Regions from separate parts of the Homo sapiens genome. Here region 1 is linked to region 2. The links come from fine-mapping of genetic effects on gene expression. A gene starts in region 2. The other region holds a variant in brackets. All regions are shown on one strand. Distances are between the middles of the regions. Region 1 holds the start of GTSF1 (gametocyte specific factor 1). Region 2 holds the start of NCKAP1L (NCK associated protein 1 like).

Evidence for each region. PIP is the estimated chance that this variant, and not a neighbour inherited with it, causes the effect.
Region 1: its variant is the best candidate, but not a certain one, in a credible set for the expression of NCKAP1L in whole blood (INTERVAL, PIP 0.70).

Annotation. Positions count from the first base shown.
Region 1 is chr12:54,465,627-54,482,012 of GRCh38, forward strand. GTSF1 (gametocyte specific factor 1) reads right to left here and starts at 7,976. Exons shown (of 9, transcript NM_144594.3): 1 at 7,920-7,976; 2 at 5,607-5,651. The coding sequence starts at 5,622. GPR84-AS1 (GPR84, ZNF385A, ITGA5 and GTSF1 antisense RNA 1) reads left to right here. Exons shown (of 4, transcript NR_120487.1): 4 at 1,215-1,404. RefSeq lists enhancers at 8,053-8,579, 8,245-8,304. The variant C/G (reference allele first, on the strand shown) is at 11,168.
Region 2 is chr12:54,490,216-54,506,601 of GRCh38, forward strand. It overlaps NCKAP1L (NCK associated protein 1 like), which reads left to right and starts at 7,537. Exons shown (of 31, transcript NM_005337.5): 1 at 7,537-7,676; 2 at 9,140-9,250; 3 at 10,318-10,410. The coding sequence starts at 7,575. RefSeq lists enhancers at 7,499-7,558, 7,669-7,728.

The DNA.
Region 1 (16,386 bases), 25 kb before region 2:
TCCACAGGCAAGTTGGGGGTAGTAATAGCAAGTAATAGTAATACTTGCTATTACTAGTATCTAGATGAAGATACTAGTAATAGCATCTTCATCTATTACTAGTATCCTGTGACATGAAAAAAGTTGGTAAGCACTGCCCTATATCAGTTATATGTTTTATGGAAGCTTGAAAAATATTAGTGGATAGATTTCTTTTTCATCTGTCTACTTTAACTTACTCCTATAAGTAGTTCCTAATCTTGGTTACTCTAATTACCTCTCAAATGAAACCAATACTGTTATCAGACAGGTAGTTTTTACTTTTCATATTTTGGAACACATGTGAGAACAAAACAGAGAATTCTTTAATCTAGTGACTACTACATTAGCCAGCTAAAAAAATAGGAACAATGTGCAAAAACAGAACCTTCTGAGGTTAAGACAACTGCAGACATATGGAACTGCTGTGTGAAAGAAAGCCCCTAACCTATAAAATGCTATTTAAAACAACCCTTAGGCTATACAAGATGACCAGGCTGTGCCCCAAATTTTAACAAGCCTGGTTAAGGAAGGGAAATTAAATGGTTAAGCACATTCTGGTATATTATGAAGACAAGAGGCAACCTAATAAATTGCTCTTGCCACCCCTGAAGGCAATGATAAAAGTGAAATAAGATAAACAATTCACATTTGATAAGAAGCTTATAAACCAGGAGACTGCTAGGAAAATCAGAAGCCAGTGGGGAATTGAAACAGACAGTTTCACTGGAAGAGTGGTAAACATGGAATAAATTGCCAACCATGATCGTGATGCAAATGAGCCAGAAAGGTGACTTGAAGGACAGAATGAATAGGAAGGAAAAGTCTTAAAGGACAGGCAGGCTTATTATGCTAACCAGGCTCTTCTTGACCAGCAATGTTTCATATTTCCGAAGCTTCAGGACAACCAGGGAGAATTTACAGATGAAATTCTTGTTAGTTTCCCCTGATTTAATCCATTCCCATCACTAGCAAATGTTAGGCCATGTCAGCAGCTGATAGACTGGATGGTACCTTATGATTCATATATATTATACTGCCCATATAGTAGCATATGTCAGAGTTGATAATGAGAGCTTCTCATTGTAATGCTTTACTTCCTGGTCTCCAGCACTTTAGGTCAACTTTAACCTGGCTTTCTAGATTAAAAAAATTTTTTTGATTTAAAAATCTTTTTTTTTTTTTTTTTTTGACAGAGTCTTATTCTGTTGCCCAGGCTGGAGTGAAGTGGCGCGATCTCGGCCCACTGCAACCTTCACCTCCCGAGTTCGAGCGATTCTTGTGCCTCAGCCCCCGGAGTAGCTGGGACAAAAATCTTTAACTGTGATTAAAAACACATATAAAATTTACCATGTTAATGAATTTTAAGTATACAGTTCAGTAGTGTTAAGCATTAATATATTCCTTATTGTTGTGCAACTAGTCTCCAAAAGTTTTTTGTTTTACTAAACTGAAACTCTATACCCATTAACCATCAGCTCTCCATTCCCCACTGCCCCCAGCTCCTGGCAACCACCATTACTTTTTGTTTTGGTGAGTCTGACTAGATACATCATATATGTGAAATCACAGTCTTTTGCTTTTTGTGACTAGCCTATTTCACTTAGCCTAAGGTCCTCAAGGTTTATCCGTGTTATAACATGTGACAGAATTTCCTGTGTGTTTTTTTTGTTTTTTGTTTTTTTTTTTTGAGACGGAGTCTCACTGTTATCCAGGCTGGAGTGCAGTTGCACGATCTTGGCTCACTGCAACCTCCACCGCCTGGGTTCATGTGGTTCTCCTGCCTCAGACTCTTGAGTAGCTGGGATTACAGGCATCCACCACCAAGCTCAGCTAATTTTTGTATTTTTAGTAGAGACGGGGTTTCATCATGTTGGTCAGGTTGGTCTTGAACTCCTGACCTCAGGTGATCCACCTGCCTCGGCCTCCCCAAGTGCTGGGATTACAGGTGTGAGCCACCACATTCGGCCATTTCCTTTATCTTCTGTCTTGCAATTTGCTTTTTTTTCTTTTCACTTAATGTATCTTGGAGTTCCTTCCAAGTCACTACATATAAGAAATATTTCACTGCTGCATATGGATGTATCAAATTTTTGATTTTCTTATTAATGGACATTTACATTGTTTCCAGATTTGTTTTTTTTTTTGAGATGGAGTTTCGTTCTTGTTGCTCAGGCTGGAGTGCAATGGCGAATCTCGGCTCACTGCAACCTCTGCCTCCCGGGTTCAAGTGATTCTCCTGCCTCAGCCTCCCAAATAGCTGGGATTACAGGCACCCGCCACCATGCCTGGCTAATTTTTTTGTATTTTTAGTAGAGACTGGCCAGGCTGGTCTCAAACTCCCGACCTCAGGTGATCCACCTGCCTCAGCCTCCCAAAGTGCTAGGATTACAGGTGTGAGCCACCGCGCCTGGCCCAGTTTTTACTATTATATACAATGCTGTGACTAACAATCTAGTTTATTCTTCTTTTTGCATGTATGAGTATTTCTTTTCTTTTTTGAGACAGGGTCTTGCTCTGTTGCCCAGGCTGGACAGTGCAGTGGTGCGATCTTGGCTCATTGCAACCTCTGCTTCCTGGGTACAAGTGATTCTTGTGCCTCCACCCCGCAAGTAGCTGGGATTACAGGCACACCTGTTTAATTTTTTGTATTTTTAGTAGAGGCAGGGTTTTGCCATGTTGGTCAGGCTGGTCTCAAACTCCTAGCCTCCTGTGATCTGCCCACCTCAGCCTCCCAAAGTGGTGGGATTACAGGCATAAGCCACCGTGCCCGGCCAATGTATGAGTATTTCTCTTGGATAAACACCTAAGAGTATTGCATTGAAGTGTCTGTGCATTAAAAGTTGTAATAAATACTATCAAACTGCTCTACAAATTTTTGTCTGGCTTCCTGGGAATATAATTTACTTTCGAAAACGAAGTAGGTCTATTTGACAAGCTTCCTCTAAAAGCACAGACTCAGCTGTTACTCAGATTTGGGTAGGGACCAGAACCCATGGTGAGAAATGGAGAAAACTTCATGGAAATAAGGAACTAGGCCTGACAAAAGTATCATCAGCTAAGAGGTACAGTCCAAAGAGAGAAGACAGAGATGTTCAGGAATCTGTAAGATTAAGCTGGAAATCCAGGTCAATTTGGGAAACTATAGTCTAAGGCAGTGTTTCTCAAACTTTAACTTACTCTCCAGGTGTTACATCACTTAGGGACTGTGTTAAAGTGCTGATTCTGATTCAGTAGGTCTGGGATGAGCGCTGAGATTGTCCATTTCCAACACACTCCCAGGTGATATTTAAGAAAAAAAAAATGTGGCTGAAAAAAGTAACGAAGAAGTAAGAGACAGAAAGGGGAGATGTTGTTTTCTAATTTAATAGACAGTAGTATGCTTCCAAGAATAAGTGTATATATACCATACAGGGACTTCACATTCTTCTTCTTTTTTCTTTTAATTTTTTTGAGACGGAGTCTCGGTCTGTCGCCAGGCTGGAGTGCAGTGGCGTGATCTTGGTTTACTGCAACCTCCACCTCCTGGGTCCAAGCAATTCTCCTGCCTCAGCCTCCCGAGTAGCTGGGACTACAGGTGAGTGCCACCAGGCCCAGCTAATTTTTGTATTTTTAGTAGAGACGGGGTTTCACTATGTTGGGCAGGATGGTCTTGATCTTTTCACCTTGTGATCCACCTGCCTTGGCCTCCCAAAGTGTTGGGATTACGGGCCTGAACCACCGCACCCAGCCTTCTTTTTTCTTTTTAAGAGACAGGGTCGGCCAGGCGTAGTGGCTTATGCTTGTAATCCCAGCACTTTTGAGAGGCCAAGGTTGGTGGATCACTTGAGGCCAGGAGTTCGAGACCAGCCTGGCCAACATGGCGAAACCCCATCTCTACTAAAAATATAAAAATTAGCCAGGCGTTGTGGCATGCACCTGTAGTACCAGCTACTCAGGAAGCTGAGGCAGGAGAATCGCTTGAACCCAGGAGGCAGAGGTTGCAGTGAGCTGAGATCATACCACTGCACTCCATCCTGGGTGACAGAGCGAGACTCCTTCTCAAAAAAAAAAAAAAAAAAAAAGACAGGGTCTTGCTCTGTCACCCAGCCTGGGGTGCAGTGGTGTGATCATAGCTCACTGTAACCTCTAACTCCTAGGCTCAAGTGATCCTCCTGCCTCAGCTGCCTGAGTAGCTGGGATTACACGCATGAGCCACCACGCCTGGCTCAGGAATTTCACATCTTAAGTAAAAACACTTTAAGAAGGCTAGGTGTGGTGGCTCACACCTGTAATCCCAGCACTTTGGGAGGCCAAGGCAGGTGGATCACAAGGTCAGGAGTTCAAGACCAGCCTGGCCAACACGGTGAAACCCGGCCGGTCTCTACTAAAAATACAAAAATTAGCTGGGCATGGTGGCACACGCCTATAACCCCAGCTACTCAGGAGGCTGAGGCAGAAGAATTGCTTGAACCCGGGAGGGTGGAAGTTGCAATGAGCCGAGATTGTGCCACTGCACTCCAGCCTGGGTGACAGAGCAAGACTCTGTCTCAAAAGAAAGAAAACAAAAACTTTAAGAAAAATTAAGGGGCAGGGGATCCCTTTTCTCAAGTGTGGTCCTCAGATCAGCATCACCCTGGTAACTTGTTAGAAATGCAAATTCTCAGATACCAGACCTTTTGAATCAGAAAATCTGCAGGTGGGACCCAGCAATCTGGTTCAACAAGCTTTCCAGGTGATTCTGCTGCATGTTAACAAGTTTGAGAACTACTGTGTTCTAGATATTTAATAAAGATTATTTCTATGTAGTTTCTGTATTTTGGAGATATAGCTCTCCACTGGACTCTTCCTAGAGGGTAGAATGGGACTGAAATATCCTTTAGTTGGAACTTTTAATTATAATGAGATTCTGAACAAGACAGCAAAGTAGGAAGAAAAAGTAGGTACTGTTGACAAGTTTTATCCACGGGCATAAACTCAGATATTCCTCAAATTTAGTCAGAGCCTAGAACAGAGCCTGTGGTGTCATGTAGGGTACTAGGTATAAACAATATAGAAGACTCTGGTTCTGACTCTGTCCCTAACTATGTAAACTTGGGCAAAATAATTAATCTAGGTTCTGTTGTCTCTGTTGTAATAGATGATTTTTCAAGTCCCTTTTGGTTCTACACTTGTATGATTCTAGGTGCTGGCTCTGCTTTGATTTCTTGGGCCATCTAAGGTTCCTGGATCACTTGAGAAATAAGAATCCTTCCCAGATTTCTTATCCTAAAAACTAATGTACATCAACATTATTATATATTACTCCTCAAAATAGAAAGTAGAAGTTACTATCCCCGTGTCATACATACAAGAAGGTGAAGTCCTGCCTCATTTAATAGTTTAACAAAGGTGTCCTAACTGTGGCCTTTTCAAAGCTTTATGACTTCTCATACCTCTTTTCTTAATTTTCAAGTATCTTATTTCAAATTTGGGCAATACCATAAAGACTTTTCCTCCTTAGCAGTTGAGAAGTCCGACTTCTTCCCAGCACACTAAAAGTCTTGTCAGATATAAAACTATACGTAAATGATTTAACTTATTTTCTAAAAGCAACAAGGAGTACATACTGTAAGTTTCTTCCATGTTGGAAATGAAGAAGCTGAATCCAAGTGCTGGAAAAAACAAAAGTGTGATTCAGGAAATCAGAAATAAAATGTACCAAAAGGTAACCCTAAGAAGTGGAGTCACTTCTGGATTTGAAACTACCCAAGTTCAATATAAGAAACCTTTACTCTCCCCACTCCCCCCAATATTTTCTTCTCTTTAAAGCATTCTTCTTGGAATCATTTTAACATCATGGCCTAATTCACATTCTTGGAATAAATTCTAGGGCCTACCAAATAGTTAAGAAAAACCAAATATGACTCCTATAGTTCAAATTTAAGCTGTATTTGGGTGATAAGATGTCTACCTTAAGTGCTATTACTTAAGTGCCTGTCACTGTTTAGCATCTATTAGGGTTTGACACTATTAATATAATAGTGATTATAATATAAATATCCATATAATATTTAACATTAGAGGGGGCAAGTCAAGACCACAAGAATACTGTCATTTAAACTTATGCATGAGGGCTGGGCGTGGTCGCTCACACCTGTAATCCTAGCACTCTGGGAGGCTGAGGCAGGAGGATCACTTGAAGCCAGGAGTTTGAGACTAGCCTGGCAACAAAGCAAGACTACGTCTCTACAAAAAACAAAACAACCCCCCCCCAAAAACAAACAAACAAACAAACAAAAAAACAAACTTAGCCAGGCATGGGGGCTCATGCCTGTAGTCCCAGCTACTCAGGAGGCAAAGGCAGGCAGATCACTTAAGTCCAGGAGCTATGAGGTTCGTGCCATTGCACTTGGCCTGGACAATGGAGTGAGATCCTGTCTTTAAAAAAACAAAAAACCCCTTATACATAAACACAGAAATAATGTTCTATTATAAAGCTTTCCTCCTGGGTTCTTAAAAATACAGATAGGCAGGTTACCAGTCTTGTTCCTCTCTAGGACCTGGAAATGCTGGAAGTCTTTGACAGACAGTATACACTCAACCCTTCCAATATGCTTGGAAACACTAGTTCACCATTTTCATGACTTTTCTTAAACATGATCAGGAAGGGCCACACTAACATTGTCCCTTTTTCTAGTGAGGTTTCACCTCCTCTCATCCCAATCTTCAGTGCTAAAGTGGCAATACTTTAAGCTTCTCCAATTAATACTCATTCCCTCTATGCACTAAGGGAAAACCTCTCAATGTTAGGACTCAAGAACTGTCCATATTATGGATAACAGAGTCACAAGAGAACAAATCTGTAACAGGAATGTGAAACATTAAAAGAGAAATGGTTTCACAGTTTGAATCCTTTTCTATTAGAAATCTCTTCTATTGAGCACTGAGACTAAATACATTTATTATTGTGGGAAAAACCTGAATTTATATAAAACCATCCCCATACGAAACTTCTGAAAATTGTCTGTCTCTAGAGCATGCTCTCCTTTGGCCCCTCACACAATTCTACACTCCTCACCACCCCTCCCCCCATTCTGTGACATAAGCAGCGTTAGAACCTATGATAGGAAATACAAGTGATCAGCTAGAACTCTAGTTTTTTTGCTACTGAGCCCATTTGTTAATGACAATCATTAGTGAATTTGTCTTAAAAATATTTTTCATATTTATGTTTGGATCAAGAAATCCCCACCGTCTTTTTGTATATATTTCACTTATACATAGTTACTTCATACTTTTTCATTAAAAATAAGAGTTTTGGAAGGAAGAACCAAGTATGTTTCTTGATTTTAAGTGATGAGCACCAGATTCAGCAGCTTGTAGGAAGCCAACCTATTCTTCCCGGACAAAAGGACGAATTACAGTACACTAGGGGCACTGGAATTCACAGTACCATCACTTAGCCGTGTCTGTTTTAAGTATCTTCCGCATCAAACTGTTAACGGGATTCTTTACCTTTTCCCTACTACTAGATCACGGTGAAATAGACAAGCTACGCCGGAAGCAATCAAGTTTAGGGTATGGATGTAGTCGGCGGCTACTGGTTAAACGCTTAACAGAATTCCGGCCTTAGTAAAAGAATCATTTTTCTTCCTTTAAACAACAACAACAACAACAAAATCACAGTAGACTTAATCAATGAGACTAAATAAGAGAAAGTGGGGGAGGTGGTTAACTTAAAAAAAACATAGAAAAGGCGCCAAGGAGGCCCTCGAGTGGGCAATGCAGCGAAACAGGTTGGTAGCCAAAATAGCTGCATTGAGAGCCCACAAGGCTGAAGGCTACCAGCAGAAAAGCGAAATGAGGATATTAGAAGGTGAAGGTATCCCGGTACGCAAAATAGGAATTGCTTAGAGGCGCCCCGGGGTGCCTTTCCTTACCTCGGTGGACACACACCTTCCTCACAGTCACCTTCCTCCCACGCAAGCCCCAGCAACGGCCACTTCCGGCGCCTAACGTTGGGAGGTGGGGCGAGGGGCCGGCACTTCCTGTGACTGGGAGTCTCGGTTCTGGCTGAGTGTGGGGCAGGGTGGATCAGCTGTGGAGTTCACCTGTGAGCCCCTAGGGTCAGCTCCCTGATGACCCTTTCCCACGAGGATCTCCTCCTTGGGCACCCCATCTTTGGGGCCATCCTCCCCTGGCCCCCAGAACAACAGTGGCCTTGAGAGGGTAGAACTCGCATTTCTTTCCCTGGGTTTTGTGGCGGCCATCTTAGAAAAGGCAGATGAGCACTTAGAAATGGGCACCTGCGATTACCTCAGGAGTTCAAGACCAGCCTGGCCAACATGGTGAAACCTCGTCTCTACTAAAAATACAAAAATTAGCTGGGTGTGGTGGCGGGCGCCTGTAATCCCAGCTACTTGGGAGGCTGAGGCAGGAGAATTGCTTGAACCCGGGAGGCGGAGGCTGCAGTGAGCCGAGATTGCACCACTGCACTCCAGCCTGGGCGGCAGAGTGAGACTCCGTCTCAGGAAAAAAAAAAAAAAAAAAAAAAAAATGGCGCCTGAGGGAATGGGACTGATGGAACTGGTTAGAGGTGGGGAGCTGCCTAGAAAGAAGCCTTGTTTGTGGAAGTTGTCTAGATAGAAAGGTAATTTAGATTTTGAGGGAAGAGAAGAGGAATTATAAAGGAGATACGCAGTGCAGCCACAAAACAATCACCAAGGACAGGAATTTTGTGTCTGGCTGTTCTTGTTTAGAATGTGTTGTAAAATCCCAAAATTCAAAAGGCACTAACTATCTGAGAATGCTTGGTAGGATGATGGTTGTTGCTGCCTGATGAAAGCGAGTTTTAGAGTTGGGGAGAGAGCTCAATGAAGAGTTGGAGAGGACAAGAAGGCCGGAAGGTTACAACTTGTTAAGGGAAAACCAAACGTAGTGTGAGGCTTTGTTCTGGGGAAAAAAAGTGTAAGCTGCAGTTCTTGTCCCCAGAGTGCTTAGAAAAACGACTCCCAAAGTGGATGAAAGGTTTAATAGCAGTACAAAAAATGCCAAAAAAAGTGGTAGAGACTGTAAATTCCTGTAAGGAAAAAAATTAATGGGGCCTGAAATGACCTGGGAAGGCATTATAGAGAAAAGGGACTTGTAGCCTTTGAAGGTTAGACAAAAAAAGGAAGGTGTTGACACTACAAGTAGATCTGGTGGTAATATTTTTCAAAACCAAGAAGTAAAAGATATGACAAAACATTCTGTGCTGTTCAAGATGTAGGAGGCAGTCTGGGTGATTAGTCTGGGCAGTGAAATATTGGGATTTCTACAGCATTTCAGTGGTGTAGAGCCCAAATAGGACTTGAGAGGACTACCCTGACAAAAACTGAATGTAGCTTTAGTAAAAAGGATCAGTGGGGCATTTTCTTTTTCTTCTTTTTTTTTTTTGAGATGGAGTCTCGCTCTGTCGCCCATGCAGGAGAGCAGTGGCATGATCTCGGCTCACTGCAACCTCCGCCTCCTGGGTTCAAGTGATTCTCCTGCCTCAGCCTCCTGAGAAGCTGGAACTACAGGCAGGCACTACCACACCCAGCTTTTTTTTTTTTTTTTTTAAGTAGAGACGGGGGTTTCACCATGTTGGCCAGGCTGGTCTCAAACTCCTGACCTCAGGTGATCTGCCTGCCTCGGCCTCCCAAAGTGCTGAGATTACAGGTGTGATCCACTGCGCCGGGCAAGGGATGTTTTCGTTTTACATGATTAATTTGTGAGCGTTTATTGTTGTTACTCCCTCCGCACCCCCTCCCCCCGACCTTTTTTTCCTACTAGAAGAGAGTTTGCTCCACAGCCATCAGTTCAGATTAAGACACTAAAAAGAACCAAGTGTTGATGGAAGCCAGGCTCAAGCCATTGTAGGCTAGTGGTTCTTAATCTTGTCTACACCTTAGAATCATCAGGGGAGCTTTTAAGACATACCATGCCAACTTCCCATCCCACACCAATTAATGTGAAAGAGCCAGGCATAGTTATTTTTAAAAATCTACCCAGATGAATTTAATGTGTAGCCAGGGCTGAGAACAACTGACCTAGGCATTGTTTTGAAATCAAAAAAGCCATTCTTTCACCCATGGCCTGGATGATTCATTTGAAGGAGGAGCAAACTGTTAAAGTGGTTTGCGAAAGATAATTGCTAAGAAGGAAAGCTTCATTGCAAGCTTAGCACTAATCATTTTGGAAAAAGTTGTTTTGGCAAATCAGTTTTAGATTGTTAGGAAATATTTTAAAACAATTTTCATGAAATCCTAAACCTCTGATTTTATCACAGTATCATTAATGCAGATTGTTGGGGCCAGTGTGATTTGAAATGAAATATTTTTTCAGGCTTTACATTGCAGTAATCTGGTGAAATTGTTGACAGTGCTACTGTGACCCATAAATACATTTTATTCAGATACCTGCAGATTGAAATTTCTGAGGAAGAAAGAGCTAAGGGCTTGGGAGGATAGGGGAATGGGTACCAAACCAGAATCCAAAGTCAGGCTTCACTGCATTCAGTAGTAATGCCTTGTCAGAATGACAGGATCCTCAACTGATAATGCTGTTTCATTTAGCACCTGTGAATAAGCCAACCAACTTTCAAACAAGCAAAAATCAAACCTGTTTTTCAATGGTGATTTTGAAATAAAAATGCACCACACATCTGTTCTTTCTATTCTTAAGTATTTTGTTCATTCCTTTCTAACTATAAATTTTCTGCTTTGTCTGAGGTCCCTGCTTAGCTTTCTTTTAGACTGGTTTTCCAGCCAGGTTGATCATATTTGAAAAGGAAAAAAAAAATGAGACAAGGCATTTTATACAAGGGTCATTCTAGGAGCTATTGGGAATTAATACCCTAAACTGAATCTGATCCGTGCTGGTTCTATCTGTGTATATACTAGCATTTACCTCTAAATGTTGTGTGTGTGTGTGTGTGTGTGTGTGTGTGTGTGTGTGTGTGTGTGTATACATTTTTTGTAGAGATTGGGGGTGGGGATCTCGCTATATTGTCCAGGCTGGTATCGAACTGCTGGCCTCAAGTGATTCTCCCACCTCAGCCTCCAGAGTTGCTGAGATTACAGGTGTGAGCCACCACCCCCAGCCTCCTATAGATTATATTCTTAGAATTAATAATAGTTGGCTGGGTGCGGTGGCACATGCCTGTAAT[C/G]TCAGCACTTTGGGAGGCTGAGGCGGGTGGATTGATTGAGCTCAGTAGTTTGAGACCAGCCTTGGCAAGATGATGAGACTCTGTTTCTCTAAATACAAAAATTAGCTAGGCCTGATGGTGGGTGCCTGTAGTCACAGCTACTCGGGAAGCTGAGGTGGGAGGATTCCTTGAGCCCAGGAGGTCAAGACTGCAGTGAGCTGAGTTTGCAGTTCATTGTACTCCAGACTGGGCGACAGAGTAAGACTGTCTCAAAGAAGAAAAATTTAAAACGAAAGAATTAATAATAGTAAAAATAAAATATCTGAACTAATGAATAAATAGATCTATTCTCTTAGTTATTGGAAAAAACCCTTTGTTAGGAAGATAGTTTTCTCAGATTTTAGGATTGAAGGCATTCCAGTAGTCCTTGAGGTTCTTTAGAAACTTTCTGTTTTCAGACAACCCTAATAAAACTTAAAACTTTTGCCCGTCAAAAGACCAAAATATATTTTTTTGTTTCTGGCTTAGGTTTTATTAATCAAGTCCTGGTTCTCTCATCTAATTATTAATTTTTCTCTCATCTAATTATGATTTCTGTTTGGCAGTTGGGTGTATAATTAAAAATGGAAAAATTATTCAATAAATTCAGTTGCAAATTCTTTCAAAATGAGGGTTCGGCTGGGCGTGGTGGCTCACGCCTGTAATCCTAGCACTTTAGGAGGCCGAGATGGGCAGATCACCTGAGGTCGGGAGTTTGAGACCAGTCTGGTCAACATAGTGAAACCCCATCTCTACTAAAAATACAAAAAAAAGAAAAAAAAATTAGCCGGGTATGGCGGTGTCTGTCTGTAGTCCCAGCTTCTCAGGAGGCTGAAACAGGAGAATCGCTTGAACCCGGGAGGCAGAGCTGCACTCCAGCCTGGGTGACAGAGCAAGACTCCGTGTCAAAAAAAAAAAAAAAAAAAAAAGAAGAGGGGCTCTATGGGGTAACAGATATTCTTCTTGGTGAGAATAAGTGAGAATAGATTAGGAAATATTGCTTTAGGGGAGGGTGAAAATATGGGGTTGGTTACAATTGTTCAGGAAAAGTAGCAGGGAGAGGTAGTGAGAGCCAATGAAAATAAATTTATGTTTAAAAAAGAGTTGCTAATGAGGACTTGCCAAGAAGAGCCAACATTCAGTTCTAGAAGCTAAAGCAAAATACAGGATGAGTGAAGAAAAACTGGTAGTGATATTTTGTTTGTCCTAGAGCCATTCTATGTTCTAACATGTAAATGTTACGTATTTCTGTAATCCACATTGCCTGTAATAGTTACCTGTATACCTGACAAATCTATTCTTTATGTTTTTCCTTTACATATATAGTTCTTTCCCCAGGACTCAGCAACAAATATCTCTTACTCTCTTTCTAGTGCTGGCACCTAAGATGTAAATTGTAAGCCAAAGTTCATAAGCATCACTTTGGTAACTTCTTAAAAGACTGTTGAAAAGATGGTAGGAGGTGTGAACCTATGGATTATGTTGAAAAAGAAAAAGATGGTAGAAGGGCAGAATTATACTAAAAAAACCTTACTAAAAGTTCTGTAAAGGACTGGTCTTCCGTAGAACAATTCTAAAATTCCAACACTGCTGTTTTGTGGATCTATTATTTTAAGGCATATAAAATGTTTAAATCCAAGGTTAATTTTCTCTGTGAAGCCTTCTTTTAACCTTTACTTGGGATTAGTCCTTACATTTTTCCTTCCTTCCTTCCTTCTTTTCTTCTCTTTTTTCTTCCTTTTCCCTCCCTCCCTCCCTCCCTCCCTCCCTTCCTCCCTTCCTTCCTCCCCTTTCCCTTTCTTTTTTTCTTCTCTCCACAGGGTTTTGCCCTGTTGCCCAGGCTGGTCCCGAACTCCTGAGCTCAAGGCATTCCCCTGCCTTGGCCCCCCTGAAGTGCTGACATTAAAGGCAGAAGCCACCGTGCAGCCCCAAATCCTTATATTTTCTTGTAATCTTCCTCCACCCTCCTATCCTCCCAGCACTGAAACTGTCCGTGACACCAGTGGCTCTTAAAGTGTGGTGCATAGACCAGCAGCATCGGCATCACCTGGGATTTGAGGAAATGCACATTTTGGGCCCCATTACAGACCAACTGAATCAGAAACTCTGGGGGCTGAGGTGCCCTACAGTCTGTGTTTTAATAAGCCCTCCAAATAATTTTAATATCCAATAAAGTTTGAGAACCATTGCCCTATACTATAGTTGCCAACATTGTTCCCCAATAATGGACCATGGCCACTACAGTTTTTTTTTTAATTGAGGCGATTGGCAAATAAATTGTATATATTTAAGGTGTACAACATGGTGTTTTGATCCAAGTATACCTTGTGTAATGATTTCCACAATTGAACTAATTAACAAATCTATTATCTGACACAGTTATCTTTTTTTGTGTGTGTGGTGAGAATACTTAAGATCTATTCCCTTAGCAAATTTCAAGTATGTAATACATTATTATTAACTATAGTTACCATGCAGTACATTAGGTCTCTAGAACTTATTCATCTTAAACTGAATATTTATACCTTTTCACCAACATCTATCTCCCTATTTCCCCCAATACACTACAGTTCTTAATTAAGTAGTAACATAGTAGATACTTGATTATTTGACTTGAGAACAGGTGTATTTTTTCAGGTGCTGCAGCAACTATATGATATCATCTATCTTGTGAAGAGCATGGGGGAAAAAGAGACTAAAATATTTAGGTTTTTTTGAGCCTGTTTTATACTGCAGCTACTTGGAAAGGCAGAGCAAAAAGGCCTGTAAAGTATGGACCAACCACAGGATAGATAAAGATGTGGAACTAATGGGATATGTTTTGGTGCATATTTTGGTGCATATCTAGGACATGAGTAACAGGCCTTAGCAATTTTTTCCCTCGTAGTTCATACTATGAGTGTAAGGGTTTAAACCTTAAAACCTGATTTTAGGGGATAAACTTTAAAGCTGGAAATTCTTTACTATTCCAGAAATATAACTGAAATTGCCATTTTTTTTTTTTGAGACAGGGTCGCACTGTGTTGCCCAGCAGTGGCACAATCTCGGCTCACTGCAGCCTCAACCTTCTGAGCTCCATCAATCCTCCCACCTCAGTCTCTTGTGTAGCTGGGACCACAGGCACTTGCCACCATACCTGGCTAATTTAACATTTTTTTTTTAGAGATGGGGTCTTGCCATGTTGCCCAGGCTGGTCTTGAACTCCTGGGCTCAAGGAATACTCATGCCTTGGCCTCCCAAAGTGCTGCGATTATGGGCATGAGCCACTGTGCCTGGCCTTGAATTACCTTAATAGAACTCATTATTTTATTTTATTTTGAGACAGGGTCTTGCTCTGTCCTTGAGGCTGCTGGAGTGCAGTGGCGTTAACACAGTTCACTGCAGCCTTGACCTCCTGGGTTCAAGTGATCCTCCTTCCTCAGCCTCCTGAGTAGGTGGGGCCATAGGTACCTGCTACCATGCTTAGCTAATAGAACTTTTTAGAGAAGAGAACCTGGTTACCAAAGTTTTTGAAAGGTTGATTTATTCTGATAGAAATATTTAGCCCAGGTTTGGTGGCAGTGGCTCACGCCTGTAATTCCAACACTTAGGGAAGCAGAGGTGGGAGGATAACTTGTGCCCAGGAGTTTGAAACCTGCCTGGATAACATAGTGAGACCTTGTGGTATTCTCCACAAGAAGTAAAGAAAAAAAGACAAAAAAGAGAGAAATATTTAGCCCAGACTACTGAGTCTTTTTTTATCCCATTGATAAGATATAGATTCTCCACATTCAGCAATCTTGCTTTTAGGTACAGGATGACTACATAGTCAAGATCATACCTATCTTCAAGTGTCCTATAGCTTAACAATAATAAAGTGGAATGAAAGGTTATTCGGAGACATGAGACTCCTGTTATGGGAACATGGGGGAATAGTTTAGGCTTTGGGAAATCTAGGAAGGCTTTGAGGCAATTACTTTTAAACTCTACTGAAAAAAAAATGCATGTGCTTTTATTTTTTTTCCCATAAGTTTATTTGGTGTTTCTCAAAGCTTTGACCAAATGTTATGTTAGAAGCCACAAAGTGATGTTTTAACTTCTATTATGCTTTCTTTCGAAGGCCTCAGAATTTCTTAAAGATTTGAGTAGCTCTGGCACCCATATTTTGAATGACACAGTTGCCTAATAAATGATGTTTTTTTCTCTTAAGACTAGGGTGGCCAACCTGATTAGTCTGGTTGTCCCAGTATCATTATTTTTATTTTTACTTTTTTAAAGATGGAGTCTTGCTCTGTCACCCAGGCTGGAGTGCAGTAGTGTGATCTTGGCTCACTGCAACCTCTGCCTCCCGGGTTCAAGCAGTTCTCCTGCCTCAGCCTCCCGAGTAGCTGGGATTACAGGCACATACCACCACACCTGGCCAATTTCTTAATTTTTTGTAGAGACAGGGTTTTGCCGTGTTGGCCAGGCTGGTCTCTAACTCCTGATCTCAGGTGATCCACCCTCCTTGGCCTCCCAAAGTACTGGGATTACAGCCAGGATAATTATTGATAGTGAGCCCTTTCATACTCAAAAATATCCTTGTTTGGAAAAACAAAATCATTGTGGTCACGTCAAATAAGACTGTATGGCCTTTTAAGGGAAGATTCTCTATATGTAAAATATGATAAAGAAAGACATTTGATGGGCTGGGCACGGTGGCTCACGCCTGTAATCCCAGCCCTTTGGGAGGCTGAGGTGGGTGGATCACAAGGTCAGGAGTTCGAGCCCAGCCTGACTAACATGGTGAAACCCCGTCTCTACTAAAAATACAAAAATTAGCCAGGCGTGGTGACGCACGCTTGTGATCCCAGCTACTTGGGAGGCTGAGGCACAAGAATCGCTTCAACCCGGGAGGTGGAGGTTGCAGTGAGCCGAGATTGCACCATTGCACTCCAGCCTGGGCGACAGAGTGACACTCCATCTCAAAAAAAAAAAAAAAAAAAGAAAGACATTTGATGATATTGGGTCATTATTCTTAGGGAACTTTTTTTTTGTTTTTATAATGTGGTGTCGATATACCAAAGGATAATTTTAAAAATTGAAAATATGTGTAAGGCCTTAGTCAGGAGATGAAAGTAGGCCAGGTACAGTGGCTTGCGCCTGTAATCCCAGCACTTTTGGAGACCAAAGAGGGTAGATTGCTTGACCCCACCAGCCTGTGCAACATAGTGAAACCCTGT
Region 2 (16,386 bases):
ATATTGTCAAAACAAAAGTAATATGAAAGATAGGAGTATCTCAAGTCTTACCTATGAAAGTTTCGAGTAACCAAAGCAATAGCCTAGCCAGTTAGACAGTAGGGGAAATTCACTGCTTCCATGCAAAAAATTAACGTTTGTATATATTTTTAGTCTTATAAGTTGTGTTAGATAGAGTGCTTGTCTCTCAAATAAAGTATTAAACAGGCAAAGGTCCTTGGAAAACTCAGTCTGGAGTAAGATGAATTTTTTTTTTTAAGACAGTTTCACTCTTGTTGGCCAGGCTGGAGTGCAATGGCGTGATCTCGGCTCACCACAACCTCTGCCTCCCGGGTTGAAGCTATTCTCCTACCTCAGCCTCCCGAGTAGCTGGGATTACAGGCATGTGCCAAGCCTGGCTAATTTTAAATTTTTATTAGAGACGGAGTTTCTCCATATTAGTCACGCTGGTCTTGAACTCCCGACCTCAGGTGATCTGCCTGCCTTGGCCTCCCAAAGTGTTGGGATTACAGGCATGAGCCACAGCGCCCAGCCAGTGAAATTTCATACTGTAAGCTTGAGTGCTGGAGAAAGAAAGGCTGGGACAGCTGGTTCCTTTACTATTCAGCATTGGTCCCTCCATCCCTTTTCCAACTTACCTAAATTAAGCTCTTTGCCAGGGAAAGATGCTAATTGTCAGATAGGTCAGCATAGCCACTGTTGGAGAAAAGGAATCTGAAGTATGAACAGTACAATGCTTAAGTTCAGGCTACTTTATAATTATAATAATTATTTTTTAGAGATGGGGCCTTGATGTTGCCGAGGCTGGAGTGCAGTGGCTCTTCACAGGTGTGATCATAGCACATGACAGCCTCAAACTTCTGGGCTCAAGCAATCCTTCTACCTCAGCCTCCTGAGTGGCTGGGACTACAGGTACATGCCAACATGCCAATCTTGGGCTACTTTATAGTTACCTGAGAATGTCAGTCTCAAATTTCTAAAGTTGTAGGTATTAACATATGAAGACTCCTAGAAGTGATTCAAGAATATACCATCTCAGATCTGCTACATTTTACTGCCAATATAAGGCCTACTTTCTTCCATGGCTAGCTGTCTTTAGCTATCCTAGCAGACGTTCATATTAAGGACTCTCAAGTTTCCAGGCAACAGCTACACCGAGATTTCTGCAAAGCATGGACAGTATAGTTTGATGGAGGAAAAATAAGATCAAGGCAGACTGGAATAAGCAGTAGGGATAGAAAAGTGCCTTAGAATAGTCCATTTCAATTCTGCTTTGCATCATGCCTAGGGCATAGATAAAGGGCACAGAGCTAGACTATTAAATGTCAGATTTTCCTGAGGGCATTTTGGTGACTAAATCCAGGGATTTAGACTCAGGTACCTTTCAGGAATACAAGTCAGGGTAGTTGTTTAAAGCTTTCACTGCATATTAATGATTATATTAGAGCCATGAACCCTTATTATAAAGTGAATTGGCTCTCTGGAAAATAAAGGCTGCAGCATAATTCAATGTTGTATACTGTTATCTTTAGATTTTTAAAGATAATGGAAAAAGATCTTCAATAACCCAAATGTAGTCTTCAGACAACCCCAAACCCTCATTTTGGCCAGCAGCCTAGAAAAGTATGAAGTTTGACCAGACTGATAAGCCTGGTCTTAATAAATGAAGACTGCTTTAGAATAGGTGGCGAGAATTGGTGACGCTGGGTTATTCACCTGATTATGGATAGCTGAATGGAGGCTAAGACCATTTCCTTTGATATATGTTAGACATGGCCAAAGCATTCCCAACCTTGATGCCACCTTGACACTTAAACCTAGCCTAAAGGATCTTGAGACCTACCTTATTCTTGAAGGAGTGTCTGTCAAGAATCTGAAGGCAAGTGTGACTTGAAGGCGAAGACGATCCTTTGGTAAGACAAAAATAAGACAAATAGCTGAAGTTTGAGGAGAGGGAAAGCACAGTACCTTTTAGTCTGGTGATGTGAATCAACTTTCCATTCAAGCTACTCAATTCCTCTTTTCCCACCATATGTTCTATGATTTCTCAGAGGTTCGGAAATTTTTGATGTCATAGTTAAGTCTTAGAGAACTGGCTCTCAATCCTGATTGTTCATGAGAATCACTGAGTAGTTTTAAAGTGACAGGTCCTTTGGTCCCACTCCAAAACTACTGGATCAGAATCTTCAAGAATGGGCTCTGGCTAATTGTGGCTTTAAAAGAGTTCCACAGGTCTGGCACAGTGGCTCACACCTATAATTCTAGCACTTTGGGAGGCTGAGGCAGACAGATTGCTTGAGGCCAGAATTTTAAGACCAGCCTGGGTAACATAGTAAGACCCCCATCTCTATAAAAAAATTTAAAAAATTATCCTGGTGTGGTGGCGTGTGCCTGTAGTCCAAGCTACATGGGAGGCTGAGGCAGGAGGATCACTTGAGCCCAGGAGTTCAAAGCTGCAGTGAGCTATCATGACACACAGTTGTACTCCATCCTGAGCATCAGAGCAAGACCCTGTCTCTATTAAAAAAAAAAAAAAAGAAAGACTTCTACAGGGGATTCTAGGTCTACCAGGCCATACTTTGGGAGTAATTAAATACCTTTAGAAGGGTTCCTCCAGTTTATGGGAGAAACTGCTGAATGATCTTTCCAATAAGTTTCTCTAAAAACTACCAGTTGGCATAGTTAGTTACATTAATTTTTTTGAGATGGAGTTTTGCTCTTGTTGCCCAAGCTGGGGTGCAATGGCATGATTTCGGCTCACTGCAACCTCTGCCTCCCGGGTTCAAGCGATTCTCCTGCCTCAGCCTCCCGAGTAGCTGGGATTACAGGCGTGCACCACCAAGCCTGGCTATTTTTTTGTATTTTTAGTAGAAATGGGGTTTCTCCATGTTAGCCAGCTGGTCTTGAACTCCTGACCTCAGGTAATCCGCCCACCTTGGCCTCCCAAAGTGCTGGGATTATAGGCGTGAGCCACCGTGCCTGGCAAAATTTTTTTTTTTTTTTGAGACGGAGTCTTGCCCTTGTCACCCAGCCTGGAGTGGCAATGGCTTGATCTCGGCTCACTGCAACCTCCATCTCCTGGGTTCAAGTGATTCTCCTGCCTCAGCCTCCTGAGTAGCTGGGATTACAGGTGCCCGACACCACGCCCGGCTAATTTTGTATTTTTAGTAGAGATGGGGTTTCTCCATTTTGGCCAGGCTGGTCTCAAACTCCTGACCTCAGGTGATCTGCCTGCCTTGGCCTCCCAAAGTGCTGGGATTACAGGTGTGAGCCACCACACTCAGCCCAGAAAATTTTTTTTGAGACAGGGTTTTGCTTTGTCTCTCAGGCTGGAGTGCAATGGTGCAATCACAGCTCACTGTAGCCTCAACCTTCTGGGCTCAAACAATCCTCCTGCCACAGCCTCCTGAATAGCTGGGACTACAGGTGTGTGCCACCACTCCCGGCTAATTTTTGTATTTTTTGTAGGGATGGAGATTCACCATGTTTCCCAGGTTGGTCTTGAACTCCTGGGCTCAAGCCATCTGCCTGCCTCAGCCTCCCAAAGTGCTGGGGTTATAGATGTGAGCCACTGCGTCTGGCCTAGTTCCATTTTTAAACCTAGAGTTTTTCTTTATGAGTGTCAAATAGAATCCACAGAAAGTGACATAACAAGCTCACTACACACTCAAAGATCAAAATTTTACTTTACTGTTGACATTCCTAATCCAATGTAGCAGGTCTTGAACCAAATGTTTACATATGCCATATTATTTCATCAGTTCCACAGTCGTATGAGGGATTACCACCATTTTATAGATTAGGAAACAACTCAATGGTGATAGATAGCTAAAGTTACAAAGCTAGTAAGTGTTTAGCATTATTAATATTAATTGAGGTAATACATGTAAGCTTGAGTGCTTATAGTACTTCAAATGCTTTACATGTACAGAGTAAGTAACTAGGCTATAACTTTTAAAATATGCACAATAGCTCCGTGAAATAGGAAGTATTATCAATATCATCTTTATTTTACAGACAGGATAAATAGGATGTGAACTCAAGATATCTGGTTCCAGAACCTGGGCTCTCGGTCACTAAATCATAAGGCTCAGCCCACTGTACTCAACTACACTTGAGCCAAATTCTGTCTGATAACAGCAGGTAGGCTTTTCGCATATACCAAGTACAGGGGAATAAGTGTTTCCAGGTTTCAACAATCTTTTGGTTCAGCTGGCTAGGCAGTATTATATGAAATGGGCAGTTAAGGACAGAACCTGATTTAGATGTAAAGTATGTGGTATAGACCAAGTGTTGTGGGAGTTCGGCAAAACCTAGACTTGGGACTATTGAGCTAGATCCTGAAGATTGACTAGGATTTGGGTAAGCAAGAAGGAAAGCATGCGTAAGTGAAGTCAGAGAGGCAGACATGAACATAGCACATTCACAGCAGGCTGAGAAGATGGTCCCCACCAAGTTGGGGAGTATCCATTAAGGAGCAGGAAACAAGATTAGCTTGGGATGCAGAGTCTTCAACCACACTTTCAGGATAAAGACAAGAAATTCAAGTGAGGTGGCTCACAAAAAATACAAAAATTAGCCAGACGTGGTGGCCTGCACCTGAAGTCCCAGCTACTCAGGAGGCTGAAGTGAGAGGATCTCTTGAGCCTGGGAGGTCAAGGTTGCAGTGAGCCATGATAGCACTACTGCACTCAAGCCTGGGCAACAGAGCGAGAGCTTGTCTCAGGAAAAAAAAAAAAAAAAAAAAAAGGAATGCAAGAAAGAGCCGCTAGAATTACACTAACCCCACGAAGACCGGTGCTATGCTGCTGCTAAGCTTCCTGGATGTTGGCCTCTTACTGTCTGCTCCATATTCTCCTTGGTAAAGGTAAAAGACCAGTAGAAATCCTACAAATTGCTTTAGTAAAACCTGGGTTTCTTTGATAACAGCAGGTAATTCAAATCTTCATGACCAATATCACATTACCTCGAGCCCATAGCTTTCTAGGGACCCAGTCTAGTAAATAAAATGGAAGGCAGATTCTATATTCCTAAAATGCAAATTCTACCTTAGAGATATTTGAAATTTCATGCGTTAAGTGTTGCCATCTTGCTGCTTCTTTTAAAAATACATTCTCTTTGGAGCATGGATGTTAAGTTTCTTTTTAAAATTAAAAAACATTTAGATTCAGGGGATACACATGCAGGTTTGTTACATGGGTATATTGTGTGATGCTGAGATTTGGGCTTCTAATGAACCCATCACCCATGCCCAAATAGTGAACACAGTACTCAAGTTTTTTTTTCTTTCTTGCCTTTATTTATTTATTTATTTATTTATTTATTTATTTAGAGACATAGTCTTGCTCTATCGACCAGGCTGGAGTGCGGTGTTGAACTCCTGGGCTCAAGCGACCATCCCACCTCAGCCTCCTGAGGAGCTGGGCCTACAGCCATGTACCACCACACCAGGCTAATTTATTTTATTTTATCTGTAGAGGGGTGGGGGAAGGTCTCACAATGTTGCCTAGGCTGGTCTTGAACTCCTGGCTTCAAGCAATCCTTCTACCTTTGCCTCCCAAAGTGCTGGGATTATAAGCATGAGCCACTTCACCTGGCCCCAACTTCTTAAGTAATAATGCTGATCAGCCTTGTCTCTCTTCTCCCACTCCCTAGAATTTATTGGGACAATGGGAACTCTGGATACGGAAAATGGGAATGATTAAAAACCTGAGAAAAGGAATTGGCAAGGTGGTGGAAATGAAGAGAACTCTTTTTGATTTATAATTTTTCCTAGGACCTTTTGCTTTGTGTCTTGAAAGAAAGTTGAAATAGAGTTGAAAATTTTCTTGAGTTACGGAGTTAAGGCCTCATTGGAATGGCAAGAATATTTTAATGCTAAAATTCATTCAAGTCTCTAAGATTTAAGGGTGATTACTAATTTCCTCTTTTTAATCTTGATTAATTTGGTTCTTCTTCATGGGGCCTATTTCCTAATTTAGTCTTAATAATTCAACAAATAAACCAGCATATTTATTGAGTGACTACTGTGTCCAAGAGGTATTGTTCTAGATCAGTGTTTTTCAGAATGGAATATTTGTACCAAAACCTCCTACAACAGTGCTTATATAAGTACAGACTTCTAGGCCCCACAACAGACTCGCCTACCTACCAATGCTAATCTCAGAGGACAGGGATTGATCTGTTTCTCAAGCATCCATAAATACCATGGTACTAGAGCACTGGTTCTCAAACTTGAGTGTGCATTGGAATCACCTGGAGGGTTTGTTAAAACACAGAGTGCCTGGACCCACCCCAGAATTTTGGATTCAGTGGTCTGGGGCGGGTCCTAAGAATTTGCATCTCTAACAAGTTTCCAGGTGATGCTGATGCTGCTGGATCACATTTTGAGAATTACTATGTACTTCTTGAGAACTACTTTGAGAATTATTATGTACTGTAGAAGTACAATGCACTGTAGTAGAGCATTGTGAGAAATATAAAAAAGTATTAGAGGCCGGGTGTGGTGGCTCATGCCTGTAATTCCAGTACTTTGGGAGGCTGTGGCGGGTAAATCACCTGAGGTCAGGAGTTCGAGAGCAGCCTGGCCAACACGGTGAAACCCCATGTCTACTAAAAATACAAAAATTAGCAAGGCGTGGTGGTGGGCACCTGTAACCACAGCTACTCCAGAGGCTGAGGCTGGAGAATTGCTTGAGCCCAGGAGGTGGAGGTTGTAGTGAGCAGAGATCATGCCATTGCACTCCAGCCTGGGCAACAAGAGTGGAACTCTGTTTCAAAAAAAAAAAAAAAAAGAAAAAAAAGTATTAGGTACAATTCCTGTCATTAAGGAGCTTATGCTGTAGTTGGGGGAGATACAACGTACACTATAAACATATAACAAGGAATATATGTATTTGACAATATAAAATATAATACAATATAATATTTGACATTGATGGGGTCTTTAGGAGAAGATGGGATTTGATCTGGGTACTAAAACATGATGAGGCCAAAGGTTCATAGGCATTCTTGGATATAAAAGAAGGAAAATATAGAGGTGTACAGGGGTGGGGTGGTAGATACTTGTTTATCTAGCTTACAGCTTTTAATTTTTATTTTTTATAGAGATGGGGTCTTGCTATGTTGCCCAGGCTGGTCTGGAACTCCTGAGCTCAATGGATCTTCCCACCTTTTCCTCCCAAAGTGCTGGGATTACAGGTGTGAGCCACCACGCCCAGCTTTGTCTAGGACACTTATGGGGGCATAAGACCAAAAAGGTTGGTGCAGTCTGTGAAGAGCCTTGAAAGCCTGTCCTTCTCCTCAGCTCCACCCACTTCATAGCCTTACCAAAAGTGCTGCACAGCCAGAAAGAGGAAGTCTCCCCTGCTGAGTGTGCAAGAGGAAGCACAAGAAGGCTCTGAGGGCCTGTGAGCCATAATGACTGATTTCACCCATGAGCCAATTGCAGAGGCAACAGAAGACCAGTGCACCAACCAGGCTGGGTCCCTCCGCCAGAGGGTGTCACCATCTAAGCTGAAAGTGTTTGGGGAGATCAGACATTGCTGTCTGGTGCTCCTCTCTCAGTGGCCATCATGTCTTTGACATCTGCTTACCAGCATAAATTAGCAGAGAAGCTCACTATCCTGAATGATCGCGGTCAGGGGGTTCTCATCCGTATGTATAACATCAAGAAGGTAAGCATGAACAATGGGACTAGTACTGATTATTCCAACAATAATAGGGCAGGGAACCCTGAGGCGGCAGGTGCAGCAGTTAGACTCCCACCTTTTTTTCCACTGCTTTTCCACTGACTATAATCTACATAATCACTCAGATTATACAGGCCAGCCAGTTCAGGAAGGCAGAAGTGGAGGCTTCTTTTCAAGGCTTCCCCTTTCTAGATATGATTCTTGCCCCAACGATGGCATCTGCTTTCCTCTGGGGATGGGGGTGAGGGTGGGGATGGGGAAACAACAGTGGTATTCCAAGTGACTTGGATAAAGGTCTGGGGTCCAACCTTCTGGGTTTTATTATTTATTGTTGATCCTCTACACTCTGAAGAGATCTGAAGCTGGGTCTCTGGCAAAAACTTTTCTGTGGAAGTGCTTCCCTAAAAGGAAAAAAAATAGATAATTAGGTATTTAGATTAAAAAGGGTAGGTGTCTTCTGAGCTGCTCCTGGGGTAGTTCATGCTGTGGTGGTTGTGTGTGTGTGTGTGTGTGTGTGTGTGTGTGTGTTTAGAATAGGAACTGAGGAATTGAAAGAAGCTAGTGACAAGAGGTGGGCTAGGGGCTGGGCAAACCATAGGAAGTAAAGAGATAAAGACAGGGGTGTTTATGGGGAGTTCCTGGCATAGAAAATAGGGGACTTTGGGGGAGGGAGCTTTTGTGTTTTTTGTAATAAAACAAATCACCAGGAACACGGTTTCTCTGTCACCATGAATCCTGTAAATGCCCTTTGGGATAAGATACTTACATAGTGAACAAAATTGTGACACTGAATCTTGTACAAAGTCTAACTCCTGAGCAGCTGCTTTTCTTGTTCCTTCCGGCTTCAGTTGAGGGGCGGGGAAACAGCTTCCTCTTTGTGCTGGGGCCAAGCAGGCATTAAACTCTACCCATCAAGACAAAATGCCTAGGTTGTTATTTCGCTCTTAGATACTTGGCTTAATGTCTTGGAATTTTTTCTTGACCTACTCTTATGCTTTTTATTTTTATATTTATTTATTTATTTATTTATTTATTTATTTTCGGAGTCTCGCTCTGTCGCCCAGGCTGGAGTGCAGTGGCACGATCTTGGCTCACTGCAACCTCCGCCTCCCGGGTTCAAGCGATTCTCCTGCCTCAGCCTCCCAAGTACCTGGGACTACAGTTGTGCACCACCATGCCCAGCTAATTTTTGTATTTTTAGTAGAGACGGGGTTTCACCATGTTGGCCAGGCTGGTCTCGAACTTCTGACCTTGTGATCTGCCTGCCTCGGCCTCCCGAAGTGCTGGGATTACAGGTGTGAGCCGCTGCGCCCAGCCTCTCATGCTTTTTAAATTAGTTCCCAGGTTGCCTTTTCCTAAGACAGATTATGAGAATGAATGTTGCAAGAAGAGGTATGTTTCTGAGGAGGAGGAGAAAGGGTTGAAATATATATGGTTTCTCTCTGCAGACTTGTTCAGACCCCAAATCTAAGCCACCTTTCTTACTGGAAAAGTCCATGGAACCATCTCTCAAGTATATCAACAAGAAATTTCCCAACATAGATGTCCGAAACAGCACGGTGAGAACTTGGTCCTTCTCTCCTTTCTCTGAATAATTCTCTGCTTGAATGGCTGAAATTCTCCTCTTTTGATGCCTCTCTTCAAACTTGGCAGGGGATGGAGTAGTCTTTTTTTATTAATAGTTTTCCAAGGCTCAACCACAGGGCTTCAGGTTGTTGTAGAGCTTTAAGTCTTGAGCATTTTGAGATAAGATGGGATTCTTCCAGCATAAGCTGGAGCGAATCATCACCCCTTTTCCATTGCAAGATTCATGGGAAAACATTGTTTTTGTACAAGACAGCTCTATCAACCCAGCAGGGTACATGTATTTTATTGTTTCTGTTTCCCACTCACTGTTTCCTTGCTGTTTGTCTTAGATTTCTGCATCTAATGGGATATCTCTACTTTTCCCTTATTAAATGTTAACCCTAGATTTTTCACCCATCTTTGTAGCATCTTTGAATTCTGTTTCTTTTGACTTTGATATAAATAGTATATCTGTTCATCTGAAAGGGTGCTTAAAATTTCCTCTCATTTAGCCCTCTGTATCTAGTCAGGATCACATGCAACCATTCTACCTAGATAGACAATCTCCTTTGTTTAAAGACCTTCAGAGCACTGAAGCGTTTCTAACTTCCTCTGTCAGTATATTTCAACTCTCTTTCTTTTTCTTTTCTTTTCTTTTTTTTTTTTTTTGAGATGGAGTCTTGCTCTGTCACCCAGGCTGGAGTGCAGTAGCACAATCTTGGCTCACTGCAACCTCTGCTTCCCAGGTTCAAGTGATTCTTCTGACTCAGCCTCTCGAGTAGCTGGCATTACAGGCGCCCGCCACCACGCCCAGCTAATTTTTGTATTTTTAATAGAGACGGGGTTTCACCAGGTTGGCCAGGCTGGTCTTGAACCCCTGACCTCAGGTGATCCGCCTGCCTCGGCCTCCCAAAGTGCTGGGATTACAGGTGTGAGCCACTGCGCCCGGCCTCAACCCTCTTTAAGAATGTTTTAGGTATAACCACTGTTCTTCTTGAGTTATTTGGATCAATTGTCTTATTTTGCACTTTTTTATTGTTTTGTTTTGTGTTTCTCTCAGCAACATTTAGGACCAGTACATCGTGAAAAAGCCGAGATAATTAGATTCCTCACCAACTACTACCAGTCATTTGTGGATGTCATGGAATTTCGGGTGAGCTCTCTTGAGCCGTTTCCAATGTAGGCAAGGTCTTTCAGAGGCTATTCTTTCTTTAGATGTTCATGTATTTGCTTAAAACAAGTTCTTGAAAAAATGAGAGAGATGTACTAATATGGAAGGATATCTAAGTTGTATTGTTAAATGAAAGCAAATTTCAAAATAGTATATGATACATCACATTTCTATTTTAAAAGAGTATGTATGTATATGTATTTAGTAAATATCTAGGAAAGATCTGGACTATTTTACATTAAACTGTTAAAAATAACTACCTTTGGGGACTGATTATGACTGGCTTCAATTTAGTAGGCTATGCATGTTTTTTCTATTTTAAAAATTATGGTAAAATACACATAACATAAAATTTACTGTCTTAACCATTTTTAAGTATACAGTTCAGTGGTACTAAGTATATTAATAATGCAACCATCTTTTCACCTTGTAAACCTGAAACTCTCTACCCTTTATGCAATAATTCCCCATTTCCCTTTCTTTCCAGCCCCTTGCCATCACAATTCTACTTTGTTTTTGTGATTTTGACTATTCTAAGTACCTTATATAAGTAGAATCATAAAGCATTTGTCTTTTTGTGGCTGGCTTATTTCATCAGCCTAATGTCCTTAAGGTTCATCCCTGTTGTAGCATATTGTAGAATTTCCTTTTTAAGCTAAATAATATTCCATTGTATGATTATACTACATTTTGCTTATCCGATCGTATGTTGATGGACACTTAGGTTGCTTCCAAGTTTTAGCTATTGTAAATGATGCTGCTATGAACGTGGGTGTACAAATATATCTTCAAAACCCTACTTTCAATTCTTTTGATTATAAACATGAAAGTGGAAATGCTGGATCATATGATAATTCTATTATTAACTTTTTTTTTTTTGAGTTAGGGTCTCACTCTGTTGCCCAGGCTGGAGTGTAGTGGTGCAATCACAGCTCACTGCTGCCTCGACCTCCTAGGCTCAGGTGATCCTCCCACCTCAGCCTCTTGAATAGCTGGGGCTAAAGGCACATGCCACCACACCTGGCTAAGTTTTTATATTTTTTGTAGAGATGGGGTATCCCCATGTTGGCCAGGGTGGTCTCAAACTCCTGGGCTCAAGCTATCCACCCACCTCGGCCTCCCAAAGGCTGGACTGTGCCGGCCTATTTTTAACTTTTTGAGGAACTGCTATACTGTTTTCCACAGTGGCTGTACTCTTTTACATTCTCACCAACGGTGCATAAGGGCTATAATTCCTCCACATCCTCGCCAACAATTGTTATTTCGTTTTTTTGACAGTAGCCATCCCAGTGGGTGTGAGGTATTATCTCATCTAAGTTTTTATTTGAATTTTTGCTAATGATTAGTGATAATGAGCATTTTTCATAGGCTTATTGGCCATTTATATATCTTCTTTGAAGAAATGTCTGTTTCATTCTTTGACCATTTTTGAATTGGATTTTTTGTGTGTGTTGAGACTTAGGAGTTCTCTATACAGGTTGAGTATTCCTTATGGAAAATTCTTGAGACCAGAGTGTTTTGAATTTCATATGTTTGCAGATTTCAGAATATTTGCATTAGGCAGTTGAGCATCCCTAATATGAAAGTCTGAAATTTGAAATGTTTCAATGAGCATTTCCTTTGAGTGTCTTGTTGGTGCTCAACAGGTTTCAGATTTTGGAGCATTTTGGATTTTCGGGTTAGGGAAGCTCAACCTGTATAAACTATATATCTTTGCATTATTTGAGCTTTAAAAATTTCAAGTATTTTTCCACAATATTTTATACAAACCTACTGTAAAATTTCTAGTATAGTACAATGAATATTGTTATACTCTTCTCCTGGATCTCCTAATTGTTAGTATTTTGCCACATTTTCTTATCCTTCTCTATTTTTTAATGAACTATTTGAGTTAGCCTCATACATCATGACATTTCCTTTCCCAAATACTTAAGCATACATTTGCTAAGAGCAAGAATATTTTCTTACCCAACCCTAATATAATTATCATACTCAGGAAATCATACACAGGAAATATAACATACACAGGAAATATATCATACACAGGAAATATAACATTATGGCTGGGTGCTGTGGCTCACGCCTGTAATCCCAACACTTTGGGAGGCTGACGGGGATGAATCGCTTGAGCCCAGGAGTTTGAGACCAGCCTGGGCAACATGGTGAAACCCCATCTACACAAAAAAAAAAAAAAAAAAAAAAAAATTAGCTGGGCATGGTAGTGAGTGCCTGTAGTCCCAGCTGCTTAGGAGGCTGAGGCAGGAGGATCACTTGAACCTGGGAAGTCAAGGCTGTAGTTAGCCATGATTATGCCACTGGCCACTGTACTCCAGCCTGGGTGACACAGTGAGACTTTGTCTCAAAAAAAAAAAAAAAGAAACAAAACCCCACCCAAACTAATATACAGCCCATATTCACATTTCTCCAGTTGTCTCAAGGATAATACATTGGATTTAGTTATGTCTCCTTCATCTTTAATCTAGAATGATTTCCAGCCTTTGTCTTGTATGACACTGACATTTTTGAAGAGTCTGGGCTAGTTATTTTTGAGAAATCCTTCAATTTGAAATTGTCTTATTGTTGATAGTTTTTGGGAGCAATACTACATGGATGATATTTTATTTGAATTTTAAATAATGAGCATGTATTATTTTTATAAACATAAAAAATAAAAATTAATATGATGTTTTTGAAAGAAAAATTGATAAGGTATTATTAAAATTTTAAAAATTAATGTCGTAATTTTACATTTAGAAATTTGTCATAAGGAAACAGAATTGTTTCATGGGGAAATAAAAAAAGGAAACAAATGCAAAGACATATGTATAAGAATATACTCCATTGCATTATTTATGATAGTTACAATGTGATAATTGATATATCCAATAAATAAAGGTTTGGTTAAAAGTTCAGAGTATGTGCCCACAAATGAATATTCTGTAGCTGTTAAAGTATACACACATATATATATATACACACACATATATATTTTTTCTTTTCTTTTTTTTTTTTTTGAGGCGGAGTCTTACTGTGTTGCCCAGGCTGGAATACAGTGGCGTGATCTCGGCTCACTGCTGCCTCCGCCTTTGGGTTAAAGCGAGTCTCCTGCCTCAGCCTCCTGAGTAGCTGGGATTACAGGCACGTGCCACCACGCCTCGTTAATTTTTGTATTTTTAGTAGAGATGGGGGATCTCACCATGTTGGCCAAGCTGGCCTCGAACTCCTGACCTCAAATGATCCACCTGCCTCGGCCTCCCAAAGTGCTGGGATTACAGGCATGAGTCACTGCACCCAGCCAATAATATATTTTTTATATTAATTGGTATAGAAAATGTTCATCATATGTTGTTTAATGTAAAAGCAAATTGCAGTAAGACAGTTTAAGACAGATGTAAGATGTAAGATGTCCCTAAAATGTATATTTACATAGGTAAATATGCATATAAAGAAGATTGGAATTTCTGATCGGTGGGATTATAGTTTAAAAAAGCTAGTTAAAATTAAACTTGTCGGTATTTTCTAGTTTTTTCTACAATAAACATGTATTATTTATGTATTCAAGAAATAATGCAAATTTTAGCCCTCTGAGCAACCCAAGCTTGTGGTGGTGTTATAGTATTTTTTCAGATGATACAAGAATAATGTGTTCTGTGCCTACCCTAGGAAGCAAATCCAGGATATTCAGTAGATCACATAGTGAAGAGAGAAGTGAGGACAAGAAGGACTGTAATGTATGAACGAGGGTCAGGTCAGAGAGTATTCATTGTGGAATTGAGAGTAGTGGTTAGCAAGAGGGTAGGTGCTGGTGGAGGCAGTGGGAAGAATGCTGGAAGCACATAAAAAAAGTCTCTTACTGAGAAAAGTTGAAGGGCAAAGGAGATTTTAGAACACCTTCTGGTTGCTGCAGTGGTAAATAAAGTTCTGAGCCCAAGGTGTTTGGTACGGCTTGTTTAGGAAAGGAGGGGAAATAGGGACATTGAAGTATGATGCACTGTTAAGTAGGCCCTGAATTAGACAGACTTGGTTTCAAATCTCAGCTTTACCACTTACAAACTGTATGACTTTAGATAAGAAACTCTTTAAATTCCAGTTTCCTTATCTATAAAATGAGGAAATAAGATTTACTGTGTGAGGCGTCTGTGAGAATTAAATGAGATAATGCATGGACAACATCTAGCTTGGTGTTTAGCATATAGTAAGGCAATAGACCAACACATGTTATTTCCGTTCCCTTCTGATTCTTGTCTGTAGAGAATAAGACCTGCGTAGTGACATTGGTTGTGTGAGTGGCTGAAAGTGAATTTCAGCTATATTCCACTGGAATTTGGGTGTAGGCTGGAGTTGTAGAAAGGCATTCCTAGCAAATGAGGAAGTATAGACCTAGACAGAGGTCATGTAGCATACAGGGAAAATCAAAAGCTCTGGATTCAAGTTCTAGTACCATTCCTTACTAGCTCTATGATCTTAGGCCAGTTTCTTTATTTTTCTGCATTCATTCAGCAAGTATTTATGATGTCACCCGGCTCCCCGCCACATTGCGGAAACAAGCATGGAGACGGGGCACTGCCTGCACAGGGCACATTTTGGGGGACAGCTACCCTGTCTGGTGTGTTAGGCAAGTTTCTTAATGGCTCTTGGCCTTGGTTTCCTTATCTGTTAATTTAGACACAGCCTTTTTTTGGAAGATAAGTAAGAAGCACTTTTCCTACACATTTTAATAAATTTTGACAAGTGTATATGCCTGTGTAACCACCACTACAAAGTATTGAATATTTCCATCACCCCAAGGGTTCCTTGTGCCTTTTTTTTTTTTTTTTAGCTTCAGCCAATCCCTACCCTTCACTTCTGGCCCCAGGCAACCACTGATCTACTTTCTAGAATAGATTTTTCTTTTCTAGCAGTTCAAATAAAGGGAAACTATACAGCATGTATTCTTTTGTGTCTGGCTCCTCTCACTCAGCATCATGTTTCTGAGATTGATCTATGTTGTTGCATGTATCAGTGATTCAGTACCCCGTCCTCCCTTTTTTTTTTTTGAGATGGAGTTTCACTCTTGTTGCCCAGGCTGGAGTGCAATGGTGTGATCTTGGCTCACTGCAACATCTGCCTCCTGGGTTGAAGGGAGTCCCCTGCCTCAGCCTCCCAAGTAGCTGGGATTACAGGAATGCGCCACCACACCTGGCTAATTTTGTATTTTTAGTAGAGACGGGGTTTCTCCATGTTGGTCAGGCTGGTCTCGAACTCCCGACCTCAGGTGATCTGCCCACCTTGGCCTCCCAAAGTGCTGGGATTACAGGCGGGAGCCACGGCACCCGGCCTCAGTCCCCCTTTTTGCTGAGAACTATTCCATTGCATGGGTACAATTTATTTATCCATTTACCTGTTGATAGACATTTGAGTTGTTTCTAGTTTTAGGCCATTATGCGTAAGTTGCTACAAACTTTCAAGTACAAATCTTTGTGGGGACATATTTTTCATTTCACTTGGGTAAATCTAGAAGTTGAATTGCTGAATCATATGGTAAGAGTATATTTAATTTTATAAGAAACCGCCAAACCTTTTTTCAGAGTTGTTCCATTTTATCTTCCCACCAGTAATGTATGAGAGCTTCAGTTTCTCTATATTCTCATCAGCACTTGCTATTATTAGACTTACATTTTAGTTATTCCAGTGGGTGTGTCATGGTATCTTATTGTGGTTTAAATTTGCATTTCCCTGATGGCTAATATCATTGAACATCTTTTCATGTGCTTATTATAAATATATATATATATTTTGAGACAGAGTCTTGCTCTGTCACCCAGGCTGGAGTGCAGTGGCATGATCTCAGCTCACTGCAACCTCCGCCTCTCAGCTTACTGCAACCTCTGCCTCCCAGGCTCAAACAATTCTCGTGCCTCAGCCTCTTGAGTGGCTGTGATTACAGGCATGTGCCACCACACCCAGCTAATTTTTTTT